2 separate regions of the Homo sapiens genome follow, and region 2 is linked to region 1. Evidence: fine-mapped expression QTL. Tissue or cell type: T cells. Region 1 holds a variant in brackets; the other region holds the start of a gene. All regions are shown on one strand. Distances are between the middles of the regions.

Region 1 (8,185 bases):
AAGATTTTTTATTACCCTGAGCCTGAGACTCCCTTCTCCCAGAGATACCATGGGACCTGGCTTGGGAGAAAATCCTTCTTTCCCTAAAGTAGCATCATGAAGGACCATTCGGGAACCCCAGCAGCACCAGATAAACCAAGCAGACCAAAATAACACTGCAAAGGCTTTAAAAACTAAATTACCACTGGACTCATAGCCCACAAAAACTAAGCCAGGGCTTGCATGCTAAACACAAATGGAGTGACTGCCTACTAAAAATAAAAGATTAAAATAATAGACAAAAGGTTCAGGATACGATGTAAAATAGCCTGTCATACCAAGAACCAGAAAAATCACAACTTGAATAAGAAATGACAGTCAACAGATGACAACACTGAGACAAATCAGATGTTGGAATTACTTGACAAGGATTTTAAGCAACTCTCATAAAAATGCTTCAACAGGTAATTACAAGTTGTCTTGCCACAAAAAATAGAAAAGCTCAGCAAAGAAATAGAAGTTAACAAAAGAACCATTATGGTAGGTGCACTATATGCCAATTTTTAAGAATAGAAATAAATGGCAGTTATGTAACTGAAAAATAACCAAAATAGAAAACATTCTGTGGTAACAGATAATTTGATTAGATCCTGGACATTTTGTCTGTTACATTAACTTTATTTTCAGAAATTTAATTATGATGTGTCTTGGCATGAATTTCTTTCAAAGTGGCAGATATTTCAAAGTGAATGTAATATCCTGTTTGGTGTTCATTCACCTTCTTGAATCTGTACATTTATATCTTTTGCTAAACTTGAGATCAGTAGTAGAGAGGAAATGACAGAAGATAGAAATCAGTGAACCTAAGGACGGATCAGTAGAATTTACCTGATCTAAATGATAGGGCAAAGATAGGCTGACAAAAAAAATTAACAGAGCCTTGGGGACCTGTGGGACAATAACAGAAGAACCAACATTTATATGTTTGGGGTGCCAGAAGTAGAGGGGAAAAAAATGGAGCTGAAAGAGCATTTAAATAATGGCTGGAAACATCCCAAATTTGGCAAAACCTTAAAAGCAGCTGGAGGCTGGGCGCGGTGGCTGACACCTGTAATCCCAGCACTTTAGGAGGCGAAGGGGGGCAGATCATAAGGTCAGGAGATAGAGACCATCCTTTCCAACATGGTGAAACCCCGTCTCTACTAAAATCAAAAAAATTAGCCGGGCATGGTGGTGCATGCCTGTAGTCCCAGCTACTCGGGAGGCTGAGGCAGGGGAATGGCTTGAACCCAGGAGCGGAGACTGCAGTGAGCTGAGATCGTGCCACTGCACTCCAGCCTGGTGACAGAGTGAGACTCCGTCTCAAAAAAATAAATAAATAAATAAAAGCAGCTGGAGAAAAATGACACGTTGCCATGGGGCGGGGGACACAATTTGGATGACAGTAGATGTCTCATCCAAAACCATGAGGACCAGAAGGAGGTGGCATTGTCAACTATGAATTCTATATCTAGCCAAACTATCCTTCAAGAGATCTCTGTTTTATCTATATATGTATCGATACACATATACCTCTATGCAGCTCTTTACAATTATTAGGGCGAGCAGGTAGTTAACATGGAATTAGGCTTATCTGATATGTGAAATAATCAAAGATGAAAGGAAGACACCTAACGTATAGCTAATGATTATAACTGTGAAATTATTCATCTAAAAATAGATTGGAATAAAATAATGATAGCAGTTATGTTAGAGTAATAGCATTTTAATTTTTCTTGTTTATATTTTTCAATTGAATGTGATCTTTTTTGTTGTTTTTGTTTTCATCAATGTGGCATAATATTAGTTTTATCATTTAAAATGTTCTTTCTTTCAAAACACTCAGTTTCAAGTCTTTACTGTAGAGTCTGTTCATTGTAAGCTTGTAAGTTGCTACCTCATTTGCATCTTGATGCTATGTAATATAATCCCCTCCCCTGCTGACTTTTTTCCTCCAGAGCAGAAGCTACATCTTGCCCATTTGTGTATCCTCAGTACCTTTCTCAGATGCTGACAGATAGTGGGTACCTAATAAATAATTGTCCAATTAACTGACTTAGATATGAGTATGCTGAGTATGGTAATAGAATTGTAGGTTCTTTCATGGCTTGGGGGATTGTTTGAATAATTCTGTCAGCCAAAAAGAAAAGAAGTGCTGGGCATGGTGCCTCACACCTGTAATCCCAGCACTTTGGGAGGTCGAAGTGAACGGACCATGAGGTCAGGAGTTCAAGACCAGCCTGGCCATGATAAAACCCTATCTCTACTAAAGGTACAAAAAAAAAAAAAAAATAGCTGGATGTGGTGGCATGTGCCTGTAATCTCAGCTATTCAGGAGGCTGAGGCAGGAGACTCACTGGAACCTGGGAGGCGGAGGTTGCAGTGAGCCGAGGTCGTGCCATTGCATCATTCCAGCCTGGGTGACAGGGCAAGACTCTGTCTCAAAAAAAAAAAAAAAAAAAAAAAAAAGCACACTAGATGTTACTGGAAGAATATTTAATGCCAAAATTGTGTATAACTCCTAGGGTATTGTTTATGTCTCTTCTAAACATAGTCTAGGAATTGTTGACAAAGCTTGATTTAGCAGTACTTCCGTAACAAATATGGTCCAAGTCACTATAAAGAAAGCATACAAAGGTGTTGTTTTTTATAGATCTTAGAATAACGGCATTGAAAAAGACAGAAGTGAGGTCATCTCATCCTTTCTGCCATTGATGACAACACCTTAAATCTTCCCACAGATCTATGTGGCACTTCAATTAACAAATCCCCTGGGAATGATGCCCCTTTGTAAGGCATCAGCCTTGTTAAATCACTCCTCTAACCGTAAATCACATCCGTAATGCAAAGCTTCCTCTCACAAGATAAAGATGCCTGTGTGTACTGCTTCTGCGTCTATCTTCCCAATTAAAGGTACAAGAGGCAGAGTCTGAAGAGTGCCAGGTATCCCCAAACTTTGTTTTCTTTTTCTTTTTTTTCATTTTCCTTCCCAGAAGAGAACCAAACTGTTTTTTTCTTCCCCCCATCGGTGGTGACATCCTCACCTCTCTTGCTCTCCTCCCCTAATAGAACACAAAATATCATCACAAAGATGTACTTTCCCCTTTTCCTAAGATCAGATCCAATATAAGTTGTTTGCAGTTATTTACCACCTACATTTCTTCTGTCATTCATGCTGAAGTCTGAGTGCAATCAGACATTTTCCTTTGATTATCGTATGAATGGTGTCTAAATATTTAACTTCACCGCCTTGTTTGGGGAATTTTAGGGGTCACCAAGTAGAAAACTCATTTTGTCCTTTTTAGGTTGATTTGGAACAGGATGGCAGGAGGGTTCACCTATGGTAAACTCCGCTTCATTGCTTCACACCTTGGAAACCAAGCTTGGATTAATCCAATGGAGCTGCTGAAGTCCCCATTCCGGGAGCTGTTGGAGGTAGAGAAAGCTCTGTTGATTTTTTTACTAGCTTTTGGAGCCTTTAATCCTAGCAATTAGTATCTCCTCTGCTATGGCTGATCCTTATAATGATGCGAGACCCTCCAGTGCATATTTTATGTTTTCTGTAACATTTGCTTGAGTTACAATTAGGAAGCTGTGTGTGCACACGTGTGTATACATGTGCCACGAACACCCCTGTGCTCCTCCTCCAAAGCCCTATTCCCCTATTGCGTTTGTCCCTCTGGATTTGAATTTCGTTATTTTTTTCTCATTGTTTATGAAGGGATTATATTACTTAAAAAAAAAAACTTGAAAAAAGTGGAAAAGTTCTCCAAACTCTCAACAATCTGCTTTCTCAGGAAAAGCTCTGCCAAACCTCAGCAATTTAAATG[T/G]TAATGATTAACTCATAATTCTTTTTCATTCTACTCAAAGATAATTGTAGTCATTGTAATAATGAGCATGGAGAACAAATGTCTGCTTTATGTGCCTTGAGCCAAGACCACACTGCTTTCAAAAAGATCAGTTCATCACAGTAGTAGACTTGGTAATTTCCTACATGGTAATGCACTTCCCATGAAATGAGCAAAAGAATAGTTTTAAATGTACCTTGATTTCCATCATTATTTTATGTAATCCTTCATGGAAAATGAAAGAATTGGAACAATGTTATATTGCCCTGAAATTTTGCAGAAAATCACAAAACTGACATATGTAAATGTATCTTTTAAGCAATGTTACGTCCCTGAAAAAGAGAATGAATTAAGTGTCATGAAGGTTAAAAGATCGTTATATTCACAAATGTTTCCATTAATGACTAAAAACCAGATTAATTCTACAGTGTTCTGTTTTAAACTGATATGAAAATGAAAAGGGACTAAAAAAAGCACAAAAGCCAGATTGAAGCTATAACATGTAATGGGAGCTAGCATTAGGGGTGTGAGAATCTTGCCAATTTGTCCATCCTCCAACGCACCTCTGCATCTCAACCCTCTCCTCATTTTTATGACTCCCACATTGATCCAGTCCTCCAGATAAATTCAGCTGGCCTAGCAGAAATATCACATAAGGATTATTGCACTCAAGATAAAAGAACATCCCCCTATTAAAAAGATTAAATCAACATTCTTTAACCTGCCACTTAAGGCCTTCTGTCGATGTCTCTTCCTTTACCCAGCCACTTTCCTTCAAGGTCACCCTGCTGGACAAGTGGAACAACCTTTTTTTTTTTTTCTTTTTTTTTTGGCAGAGTTTCGCTCTGTCACCCAGGCTGGAGTGCAGTGGCTCTCGGCTTGCTGCAACCTCCACCTCCTGGGTTCAAGCGATTCTCCTGCCTCAGCCTCGCCTCCTGAGTAGCTGGGACTACAGGTGTGTGCCACCATGCCCGGCTAATTTTTTTGTATTTTTAGTAGAGACAGGGTTTCACCATTTTGGCTGGTCTCAAATTCCTGACCTCAAATGATCAGCCCGCCTTGGCCTCCCAAAGTGCTGGGATTACAGGTACGAGGCACTGAGCCCGGCCAGTGGAACCACTTTCTATAGTGTGCCCATACTGGGCCTTGGACATCTTTCCTAGTTTGGTACCTGCTGTTTACTTAACAGCATGCTACTGTGTATCTGTGCCATCTTGTCACACTTGTCTTTGTAATGTTGCCTAACTCTGGCTCTCCAGATTTGTACATTACGACTTTATTGTAAATCAGAGAAGGTCAATAAATTTACTTCTTTCAAATTTCCCCCATGGTCAAGGACTTCGTATGTCTTCACTAAATGCTTATTAAGCCTCTAAAACAATGGAATTTAGATAAAGCTGGTAGGAATAAAAAGTGAACATTGGTATAAAAAACAGCAGTGAAATATACTAATGTGGCAATGAGATGCTCTTCAAGAATTTGGAGAAAAATACAGAAAATAAGAGGGTAAGTAAAGTCTGTACACTTAGTATAAAATCTCCAGTCACCTCTACTAGTCCAGGTAGAAGACTGGAGAATTTTTTTCTGAACGTCTCCAGGGCAAGATGCCTTCAAAGATGGGCATTTGGGGTTCCCCAGTGAAATTGTCAGTTTGCCATTCGGTTGCTCTGTGGCAAAGCCTACCAGTTATAATCGCCACCCATGCACACAGAGCCTACCATCCATTCTGTAATGTGTTATTTTTAAATGTCAATGAACATATAAGGATCCATAGGTATTTGAGGAAAGCCTCTAGCATGAATTAGAAAGACCTAAACCAGCAAACAAATGGGAGAAAAACAACTTAGAGAAAACAGAGCCCATACAGGAAACAAGAAAACATCAAAAAGCAACTATCTAAAAATTACTAGATGATGTTACAACTACGAAACAAGAGCAAAAATCAAAAAAGGGGTTTTCAAATTTAAAATGATAGCAACATTTTAAAACAAATTACTAGAAAATTAAAAGATAAATACTTTCTCAGAAAGTATAACAAAACAAGACAAAGAGGTGGAAAATAGAAAATTATTTAAAAATTGGAGAATCAATCTAAGAAAAATGTAGAAATGGAAATGCAGACGCAATGGCAGGGACCACTTGACTCTCGTCATGAGTGAAGGTGTCTTTGTGCTCCTAGGTCACTTTAATGAGTGTACAGATAATTGGCAGGGAGGAGGATCTTTGTAAAATGAAGATTCTAATTCAGCAGGTTGGCAGTAGCACCTGAGATTTTGCATTTCTGACACGCTCCTGAGTGACGCCTGTGCTGGGTCTGTGGACCACACTTGGAGTAGCAAGGTTCTAGTCTACGCCATCTCTACATCTTCCCCACTCCCATCTTAGATGGTTAAACCACTTGCAGAGAGTGAGGCCTGTGAAGCAGCAGAGTGGTTGATATTCCTTAGAGCTCTATGTATCCAAATCTGAACTATCTTTCCTCCAAAATCTTCTTCCCCTGATTATTCTCTTACTCAATTAATGACATCTCTTTCCTTCCAATTCCAATTTTCCAAGCAAGAAACCTCTGTTCTTTTTTTTTTTTTTTTTTTTTTGAGACAGAGTCTCCCTCTGTTGCCCAGGCTGGAGTGCAGTAGTGCATAGTGCAATCATGGTTCACTGCAGCTTCCGCCTCCCAGGTTCAAGTGATTCTCCTGCCTCAGCCTCCTGAGTAGCTGGGACTACAGGTGCCCGCCACCACGCCTAGCTAATTTTTGTATTTTTAGTAGAGACAGGGTTTCACCATGTTGGCCAGGCTGATCTTGAACTCCCGACCTCAAGTGATCTGCCTGCCTCGGCCTCCCAAAGTGTCAGGATTACAGACATGAGCCACTGCACCCGGCCAACTTCCCCCTCTAATAGTTCTAATGAAATATTAACTACCCAAGTATTTCTGTAGCCTGTTTTCTGAATATCTTTCTCACTGTCTCCTCATCTGACTGTCCATTGCCTTAAGGCTCCCCAGGTCACATCTCTTTAAGTGTACTCTAGGCGGGCCGATCATGAGGTCAGGAGTTCGAAACCACCCTGGCCAACATGGTGAAACCCCGTCTCTAATAATAATACAAAAATTAGCCGGGTGTGGTGGTGTGTGCCTGCAATCCCAGCTACTCAGGAGGTGGAGGCAGGAGAATTGCCTGAACCCAGGAGGCAGAGGTTGCAGTAAGCCGAGATCACGCCACTGCACTCCAGCCTGGGTGACAGAGTGAGACTCCATCTGCGGGGGGAAACATGTACTCTAACCTCCTTACCAACTCTGGGTCTCAGACATGGCTCCACAGGGTTGCTTGTAAAATGCAAACATGACCATGTTAATCTCTTCCCTAAGAGACTCTCATAATTCTGCAGTATTAAAAGTAAATAAAATCTAAGCTCATTAAAATGATATTTCAAAGTCCTTCTTGATTTGGCTTCCTGTTCATTTTTAAAACTTCATCTCCCACATATAGACACTGCTGTAGCCCTGCTGAGCTACTTTCTACTGAAAAGCTTTGTATACACCATTACTCTGCCTGAAACTCCTCACTCTACTATTCTACCTGGGAACTACTCAGATGGACTCCTGGGAAGCCTGCATTCCCCTTCCAGGCAGAGTTAATTCTCTCCTCCATTGTTCTCCAATAAAGGTCTCTCTCTCTCTCTCTCTCTCTCTCTCTCCCTCCCCCTCCCCCAACCTCTGTTTTTGTCCTTAGCCATATTCTGATTACCATGACCCCTTCTTAACCTTAAATTCCCCTCATATGAAATTCTAGTATACTGGGATTAACTTTCATGTATGTTTTTGATGACCACAGGAATTTTTATTTGTGAAGTCTGTGGGAATTATTTAAAGGAGGAGCAAAGAACTGAGCATTCAGAATATAAAGGGAGGAGAAGTGAATGTCACAGAAGGAGAAAAGGTTGCACAGAGATATCTTGAAAAACATAAAAAACAGGAGAAAGGAGTAGTTCATTCTGATTCTTACAACCACCTTCAGGTGGTTTTGGAAGGAGGGAGGGAGGGAGAGAAGGGAGCTAAGACTTCAGTGAGAAAGGCTGTGGAGCCAGGATGAGGAAGAAAGAGAAAGGTGAGACCATGCGACAGGACCGGAGCAGAAGTCAGCAGGTCATGAATTATGGATGAGCAGTACACTGAACATTTGGATACCACCCTCATTCCATGTACCATGTATGGTATCAGCAACAATGCAAAATACATTTGCATGTGTCTTGCTGAAGAAGTCAAAGAGAGTAAAGGCTGATGAGTGGAAATCAACAGTACAGCAGACACCATTATAAAC
Region 2 (8,185 bases), 64 kb before region 1:
AGACTTTCAGTCTTTACTCCACGATGGTCTAAGCCGAGGAACCCTGAACACTTCCTACAGGGCCTAAAGCTGCCCTAGAGCCCTTGAATGTCTGTAGCCATCTGGTTCGCTCTACCATATGCTGATCTATGTTCAGTTTGTTTCATGCAGTGTTGGCTCCTAAAATGGGTATCACCAAGCTGGACTGTGACTAATGCGAGGGATCTGAATCATGCCAAGTGATAGTTCATAGCCGACAGGACTGAGAATGCATCACTTAGAGGATGTCATTGCACAGGCACTCTTTATTTAACATACATTTATTTGTATTGTGCTAGGCACCGGGCTAAGGGCTTTTAATCTTCATAGCAACTGCATGTCCTATTATTTATACATTTTAGAGGTGCACTTTGGCTCAAAAAAGGATGTAGTGACTTTCTCCACGTCACCTAGCTAGGGAGAAGCAGCAGCAGACGTGTGCTTCCTGTCTACACTGTGGCTCTGAAGCTTGCATTCTTAACCACAAAGCAAATCATTATAGAAGAGAAAAAATATATATATATTTTTTTGAGATGGAGTTTCACTCTTGTCGACCAGGCTGGAGTGCAATGGCACAATTTTGGCTCACTGCAACCTCTGCCTCCCAGGTTCAGTGATTCTCCTGCCTCAGCCTCCCGAGGAGCAGGGATTACAGGCATGCACCACCATGAGCCACTAATTTTTGTATTTTTAGTAGAGACGGGGTTTCACCATGTTGGTCAGGCTGGTCTCGAACTCCTGACATCAGGTGATCCACCCGCCTCTGCCTCCCAAATGCTGGGATTACAGGTGTGAGCCACCTCACCCAGCCCCCAACCGACTAATTTTTGTATTTGTAGTAGAGATGGGTTTCGCCATGTTGGCCAAGCTAGTCTTGAACTCCTGACCTCAGGTAATCCACCCGCCTCTGCCTCCCAAAGTGCTGGGATTACAGGCATGAGCCACAGTGCCCAGCCAGAAGAGGAATAATTCTTTAAAATCAGTGCAGAGGGCAAATCTAAAAGAAACTGGAATTTAGGAGACTATAAGGAAGAATTTTCTAATAATTCCAGCTGTTCACCATGAAACATTTCATTAGCAGTTTGCAAGCTGAGGCTTATTGCCCATGGATCAGGAAAATAGTAGAAGGCATTCTCAAATAAGTGGGAGCTCAGAAGTGGTAAATGAGCTCTGTTGGTCTTTCCAATTCAAATTTGTAAAATTTACTCTCTTGAGGACATTTCTTATAGTCAGTTTCTTCTCATATGACTTTTTCTTTTTCCATTCAATTCATAAAGACCTTCTTTTTTGGTATAAAGCCAGAATGCAACTTATTCATGACTGAAATTGGCATAAGCAGGGTGTCCTCAGACTGTAAGCGAGCCTGTATAGGAATCCACATCATGTTTTGCTGAGAAAGAGAGTGGCCTGGATCACGGAAATTCAAAGATGATTGAAAAAGCATTTTCAGCACTTGGAAAACTTTATTTCATTTAATTAGATATTAATGATCAGTGAAAGAACACATAAGGGTAGAAGATAAAAATGTCATTAGATTCCAAGCCCAGTGCCTTCAATAATTGAGTGTGTGCTATTACTCTTTTACTATGGTCCTTAGTATTGTGATGTGCCCCTTAATTATTTCTGATATGCTTTATATGTGCCTTTATTTTCCAGGTGTTAATTAATGTGTTTTTTTTTTAAAGAAACGCATTTTCTGCTTTTAGAGAAAATGTAGTAAATATACTAACATTCCAGTTTTGATATTTGCTTGCTTTTTTAAAAGTATGTCTAGTTTCTCTAATTAAAATATAAATAGTATTGTACATATCATTGAGGATGACTTTATGGGAAATTATGGGACTAGAGAGTTTTTCTTCTCTCTTATGAGCCTTCGGGATTTGCTTTCGGAAAAAGTAATCAATATTTACTTTCATTCTGCTCACCTCACTTTTCTCCTCAGCTACTCCCTATTGTACCACCTCCACCAGCCCTCCCACTCTTCCACCAAATCATGTAATTTGTGCCAGTGATTGGAAGACATTTGCATACATAATCCCAGGGGGCCTAATATCTACAGATGCTTCCATGGAGATAGTTGTAAATTATGATTATGGAGAGAGTTTTCATTCTTGAAATAATTATCACGAGATAAGCCTCAGAGAGGAAATAATACATAAAGATGTGGCACATATGAGGTGACAATTGGGCTAGAATAACTGGAAGGATTGAATGACAAGTACAAGGGTGATCTGTATTTCAGAAGATGAGGGAGACCTAGGAGTTGCAATGTGTCAGGATATTTTAGGCTGGGAGTCTAGAAGGAAGGTTCCACTTGAAGTATAGGTCTTAAAGAAGTCTAGGAGATTTCTAGAGAAGGGAAAGAACAAAAGCAGAGAAGTGAACTGAAGGGCATGTTTGGGGAACACCAAGTAGTTTCATTTACAGCAGAGTTCAAGAAGAGAAAAAAGTTAAGGAAGAAAAGTAAGTTCAGGGCTATACCGTGAAGATCCTTAAGTATCAGAGTAAACAGTTTGTAATCAGCCTGTGTGGGGAAGGGGTTTGAGGCTCCTTCCTCTCAGGAGGTTGGTATTTTTCATTAACTCTGCCATGTGTCTGTACTGTCTCTCCCCTACAGGTAAGGTCTTTTGTCACATTTATTTTGATTTATAGCACGAATGCTGAAAATTCCAGATTTGTTTAATATATTGGTTTTTGGCTATATATAAATCACTGTGACTATATAGTTCCCTTTACATTTTATGTACTGATGTTTATTTCTGGTACTATATGTAATAAATATTTAAAAAGTTTGCTTCATGCATTATACATATGTCAGTGTGTACATGGTTTCTGTAAGCTGAGTTAGTTTAAGAGTACATTTGCTTAAAGCAGGTAACAAGTCTTCTTTCTACATATTTCAAATTCAATAAATAATTAACACGTTGCCAAATCAGGTCTCATTTTTTCTAATTTGAATTCAGCCATGAATTCATTTCTTGGAACTAAAACACCCTCAACAATCCATCTCTTTCTGTTCCCTTCTGCTTTATCTTACAGATGAGGAAACCAGGGTCATCTCAAAGTCACACAATCAGTTAACTGGCAACGCCAGGGCTAAAGCTGAGTTATCTGGTATCTTTCTACCATACACCTCTTCTTATCTGAAAGTGACTAACAAAAAGCAAAGCACGTGGCCAATGCACATGTACAATTTAAAAAGTTAATTTCATAGACCACATCAAAAGGAACCAGTGAATGTTATAATTTGGATGCAGTGGTTATACTTTTATTTGTTAACAGCATTACATTAGCAGGCATGCAACATTTCTAACAAATCAGTTATTGTTATTACAAGTGGTACCCCCAAGTTCCCCCTAACAAAAACCTGTGGCAGTGTTGGGAACAAAGAGAAAAACACTTCACAACGGGAACATTTTCTATCCTCCATATGGGTACATTATTTTTATTTATAATTGACTGTAAACACCGCTCCCCCCACAAAATTTCTAAGCTCCCCCCAACTGACTGATTGAACACCTCCACCAAGCGGATTCCAAAGAAACTTGAAAAACTAGTTCAGGCCATGCTGGGAAAGGGAAGTCAGACATGCCTCATTATACTTTCCTCTCTTTGGAGTTCAGGCACAACTGACCAGTATTATTATTAAAACAAGAGATCTTCATACCGACATAACAGACTCTTCTTAGCAATAAGATACCAAAATTCCAACATGACTCTAGTATAGCATCACATGAAAGATAGCAGGCCCTAAATCAAAGCATTTTACCCTAAAATAAATTTCTTTGACACTTTTTGAAATGGCCCTACACAGCCATCTCTTGTGGGGAAAATCTACATTCTATAGAGACTCCCTTTCCCTTTCCAGGTCTTTTCCTGATCCAAGAGATATTTAACTAAGAGTCTGGCATCTTTTTACACATGATAAGAGACATTTGCCAATTATTCTCTCTGAAGCCTGTTACGTATGAGACTTCGTCTACATAATAAGAACCTTGGTCTCCACCTTATCTTAACCCAGACACATTCCTTTCTATTGATTCCAGGTCTTTAGGTCACAACTTAACTCTTTCAACCAACTGCCAATCAGAAAATCTTTGAATCCACCTGTAACCTGGAATCCTTCCCCTTTTTGAGTTGTCCCATCTTTATGGACCAAACTAAGTACACCTTCCATATACCAGTTAATGTCCTTATGTCTCCCTAAAACCATATAATCCCAAGCTGTAGCCCAACCACCTTGGGTACATGTTGTCAGGACCCTGTGGGGTTGTGTCATGGGTCACGGTCCTCACCTTGTGCTCAGAATAAACCTCTTCAAACATTTTACGGAGTTTGGCTTTTTTCGTCAACATGAGCCTCTAACAGTTGGTTACTGGATCATCCTGAGGAATCAAGGCCATAGCACTTAAAGACCCATAAATAATCCTACATGATATTCACTGTGTATTCTATGTAGGTGTAATTTCCAAGCTAAAACATAATTAACCCCACTAATAGACACAACAAACATCCTCTGTATTATCAGCACGCACACAGGGCTTTCTCTGCTGCGAGTGGACTTGTGTCCTTACTTATAATTCTGGAATCTTCTCTAGGGGAGAGGCTGGTCTAATTTCTCTCTATTGACCCAGGGCAGGCAGGAAACAAGGCACACTGTGGAAAGAATGTTTGAATGTTCAGGCTTCTAAGTGACAGAAAAGCAGCTTGTCTGAAAAATGATTTTTTTCTGGCTTCTAACCAGTGTTAATTCACTTGGAAACCAAGGCAGTTTTCTCCCCTTTACTGAACTCTGGATTTCTTTTCCAATCAAGGCCCCTGACACCAAAGAAGGAAATGGAGCGTAAATCAGGCTACAGAGTGGCTGCCATTCATTCGGGAAGCCTTATTGTTTTCCGTCCTTTGTTCCCCTCTAGACCCTTGCCAATCCCCAGGCCGCGAGGCCCTCTGAAGCCCTGAGCCTGGAGCGGTAGGAGACGGGGGAACTGAAACGCCGCGGAACCAGAGGCTGAGGGAGCGGCGCGATGGAGGGAGGAGGAGCGACGGACCGGCAGGCCTAGCTCCGGGGCTGCGGCGGCTGAGGCGCGGGGATGGAGCCCCTGCGGGTGCTGGAGCTATACAGCGGCGTGGGCGGCATGCACCACGCGCTGAGAGGTGAGAGTCCATCTAGCACCCCTCTCTCTATTCGCTCACGGGGGCTGGTTGGAGCACCCGCGCCGGGAAGGGGCGGAGCGGCGAGACGCAAGGGGCGGACACTGTGGGGCGGACACTGTGGGGCGGCCCTCGGTTGTCCTGGAAACAGCTCCTGCGCGCCGCCGTGTCCACCCCTCCAGACGCTGACTCCCTTCTCCTGGCGCCGAGTCTGGCTCGAGGGGCCGCACATGGCGCCTCAAAGGGCCCAGTTGGGAGTCGGGATTCGCAAGGCAGTAAATCAACCTCAAAGGGTATCAAAGGGGCGAGACCCTCGCCTGGTGCCAAGCCCCCATTCTAAGTGTGCAGCCACCGAGAAGCATGGAGACTCGGTCCTTCATCCTGGGGGGCTTCCCAGCTGGGGAGGGAGGGAGTGTCAGGGGCTCCCCTGGTGAGAGATGGATCTTGGAAGGGATAATAGCTACAATTCAAGGTAGAAGTTTGCGAATGCTAAATAGGATGGTAGAGGAAGCTTGAAGAACTTGGACGTCTGATCGTTGGAAAGAAACGTGTCTTCTGTAGTTCTGCGTTTAGATGCCAGAGAACTGAGTTCCAGCTTGGTGGCAGTGTGACGTTGGGCTACTTCGTGAACAGTGATGAACCTGTTTCCTGGTTTTAAAAGAGAATGATTATTATAAGGATTAAAGTCTGTCAAGTGCTTGTTAGTGCCTGATACATTGTAACCACTCCAAATATTATACATTATTATCACTATTACTTTAAAACGACATCACGAGATATTATCAAGCAAACTATTACTTTTATGCACGTCTTTGATTTTGAGGTTTTTGATTTCTTTCATGCTGAGTTGGAACTGAAAGTTTTACTTTTGGTGATATTCACTCAAAATTATTTATTGAGCTCCTATTCTGTGCCAGATTTTGTGCTAGGAGCTGGGGATACAGAATGACAAACAGGCTTTGAAGGTGCATGTTTATTCTTAAATTACTAAGACAACCACCGAACTGAAACTTCCCTGCTTCCTTATTTAGGACCAAGAGTAACAAGAGTAACTGTAAGATACAGACAATATTTAATGGGTTTAGCGTATAAGTTTTTTGAGCAGATTTATTGAGTTTCAATTCTAGACTAGGTTAATGATCATTAAGTTTTTAGTACTTGTTTGCCGGCTATCTTTATTTCTCATTTTAAAACTTAGCAGCATCAAAGCAAAACTCTAGTACTATTTACTCTTTGTTAATTCTCTAAAGTGATATAATGTCCGCGTTTTCCCATATCTTGAAACTCCTTAATGAATTGCTTAGTACTTTATCATAAGCTGTAATTCAGCCATTCCTTAAGTGTCGAATATTTAGATCATTCTTCAGTTTTTTTGCAAGTACAGTGTGCTACAGTTACATTCTTGAGCATAATGCCGATTTTCTCTTTAAGCATGTTTACTAACTGTTGGAATTAATTCAACAGTAAGACTTAACTGTGTGCTAGTTACTAAGTGAAAAACAGAATTTTTAAGGCTTTTGAGAGAGAGGATAGCAAATTGCTTTTCAGAGATTTTTGAGTGCCTTAACTACATATTCATCAGGGATATGTATTATCAATTTTTAATCCTTGCTAATTTGTTAGGGGAAATTGTGTAATTTTAAGTGACAGTTTTGGGATTAATGAAAGAGTAAAATATTTTCTCTCCTATTAGCCAATGCAATGTGAATTTGTACACGTTTTTCTATTGCCAGTTCTACTGTTGTGAATCCAAGCTATTAAGTTCTGTAATTTAAATTATTAACATAGCTTCCCAGCTTCTCTCCTTACTTCCATTCTGCCTCCCTACTCCGTTTTCCTTCTAGCAGGCAGCATGATCATTTGCACAGTAAACCAGATCATGTTACTTCGTTGCTTAAATGGTTGCTTTTGAGATTGTAATCACAGTCCCATCTTAACAGGCTTGTGAGTTCTGGCTTCTGTCTTCTCTTCAATTTTATCTGCCACTCTCCCTTCAGCATCCCGCTTCACCGTCAACACCCAAAGCTGAAATTCTAATTAAACGATTCCCTGAATTCTTTCCTCAGCCTTTCTTGTCGAGGCTTACTGTTTTTCTTTCTCTCTACTCCTCAAACCCTCGAAGTTCTTCGATGTTCTGGCCTTTGCTTTTGCTGTTGCCTCATCCAGAGTGCTCCCTAACCCCAGACTTTTTCACTCTAGCTTCGGTTCACATTTCATGTCTTAGTTCATATATTGGCCTTCCCTGGCTGACCCTGTGATCCAAAGCAACTTTCCTGCCTCCCTGTACCTCTCTGCTCTCTCATCTTTTCGGTGGAAATCTGCATATTAGGGATATAGACTCTTAATCATATTGATGCAAATATTTTTCCACACTTGTTTGCCTTCCCATGTTCACTTATTTGATGTACTAAAGTTTAAAATTTACCTGTAATAAAATGCATTGCTCCTTTCCAGGTGGTTTTTAATATAATAATAAAGACTAATAACAGCAGCTAACTTTAGTGTTTATTAGGGATCTTTTAAATTCAGGTCCTTTTTTAAGTATGTAATAAACTAGTTAGCGGTAGAACTGGTATTTTAACCTAGGTCTACCTACCTGACCTTTTAACTATGCTATGTTGCCGTTGTTCTGGTTAGAACTACTAACTTCCTTGGATCTATACATTAAATAATATAATAAGCAGCACAAAAGGAATAATATTGAACTTCATTTTTGACTGATTTCTAGATAAGGTTCATAATGGAATTTTTTTATTGTGGTAAAACACAACATGAAATGTATCATTTAAACTATTTTTAAATGTATAGTTCAATGGCATTAAGTACATTCACAATGTTGTGCAACCATCACCCTTGTTCATTTCTAAAACTTTTTAATCATCTCAAACAGAGCTCTGTACCTGTTAAACAATAACTCCAAATTCCCTTTCCCCCCAGTCCCTGGTAACCTTGATTCTGCTTTGTCTTTATGAACTTGTCTACTCTGCGTACCACACATAAGTAGAATAATACATTT

The links. PIP is the estimated chance that this variant, and not a neighbour inherited with it, causes the effect.
Region 2: it holds the start of TRDMT1, and the variant in region 1 is fine-mapped to the expression of TRDMT1 in T cells (TOPMed, PIP above 0.99). The same link has a PIP of 0.9 or more in testis.

What each region holds. Positions count from the first base shown.
Region 1 is chr10:17,134,340-17,142,524 of GRCh38, reverse strand. TRDMT1 (tRNA aspartic acid methyltransferase 1) reads left to right here. Exons shown (of 11, transcript NM_004412.7): 11 at 1-5,189. Among named protein-coding and RNA genes, the nearest start is that of CUBN, 8.6 kb to the right of the region's middle. The variant T/G (reference allele first, on the strand shown) is at 3,849.
Region 2 is chr10:17,198,558-17,206,742 of GRCh38, reverse strand. TRDMT1 (tRNA aspartic acid methyltransferase 1) reads left to right here and starts at 5,071. Exons shown (of 11, transcript NM_004412.7): 1 at 5,071-5,172. The coding sequence starts at 5,109. RefSeq lists a silencer at 5,374-5,433.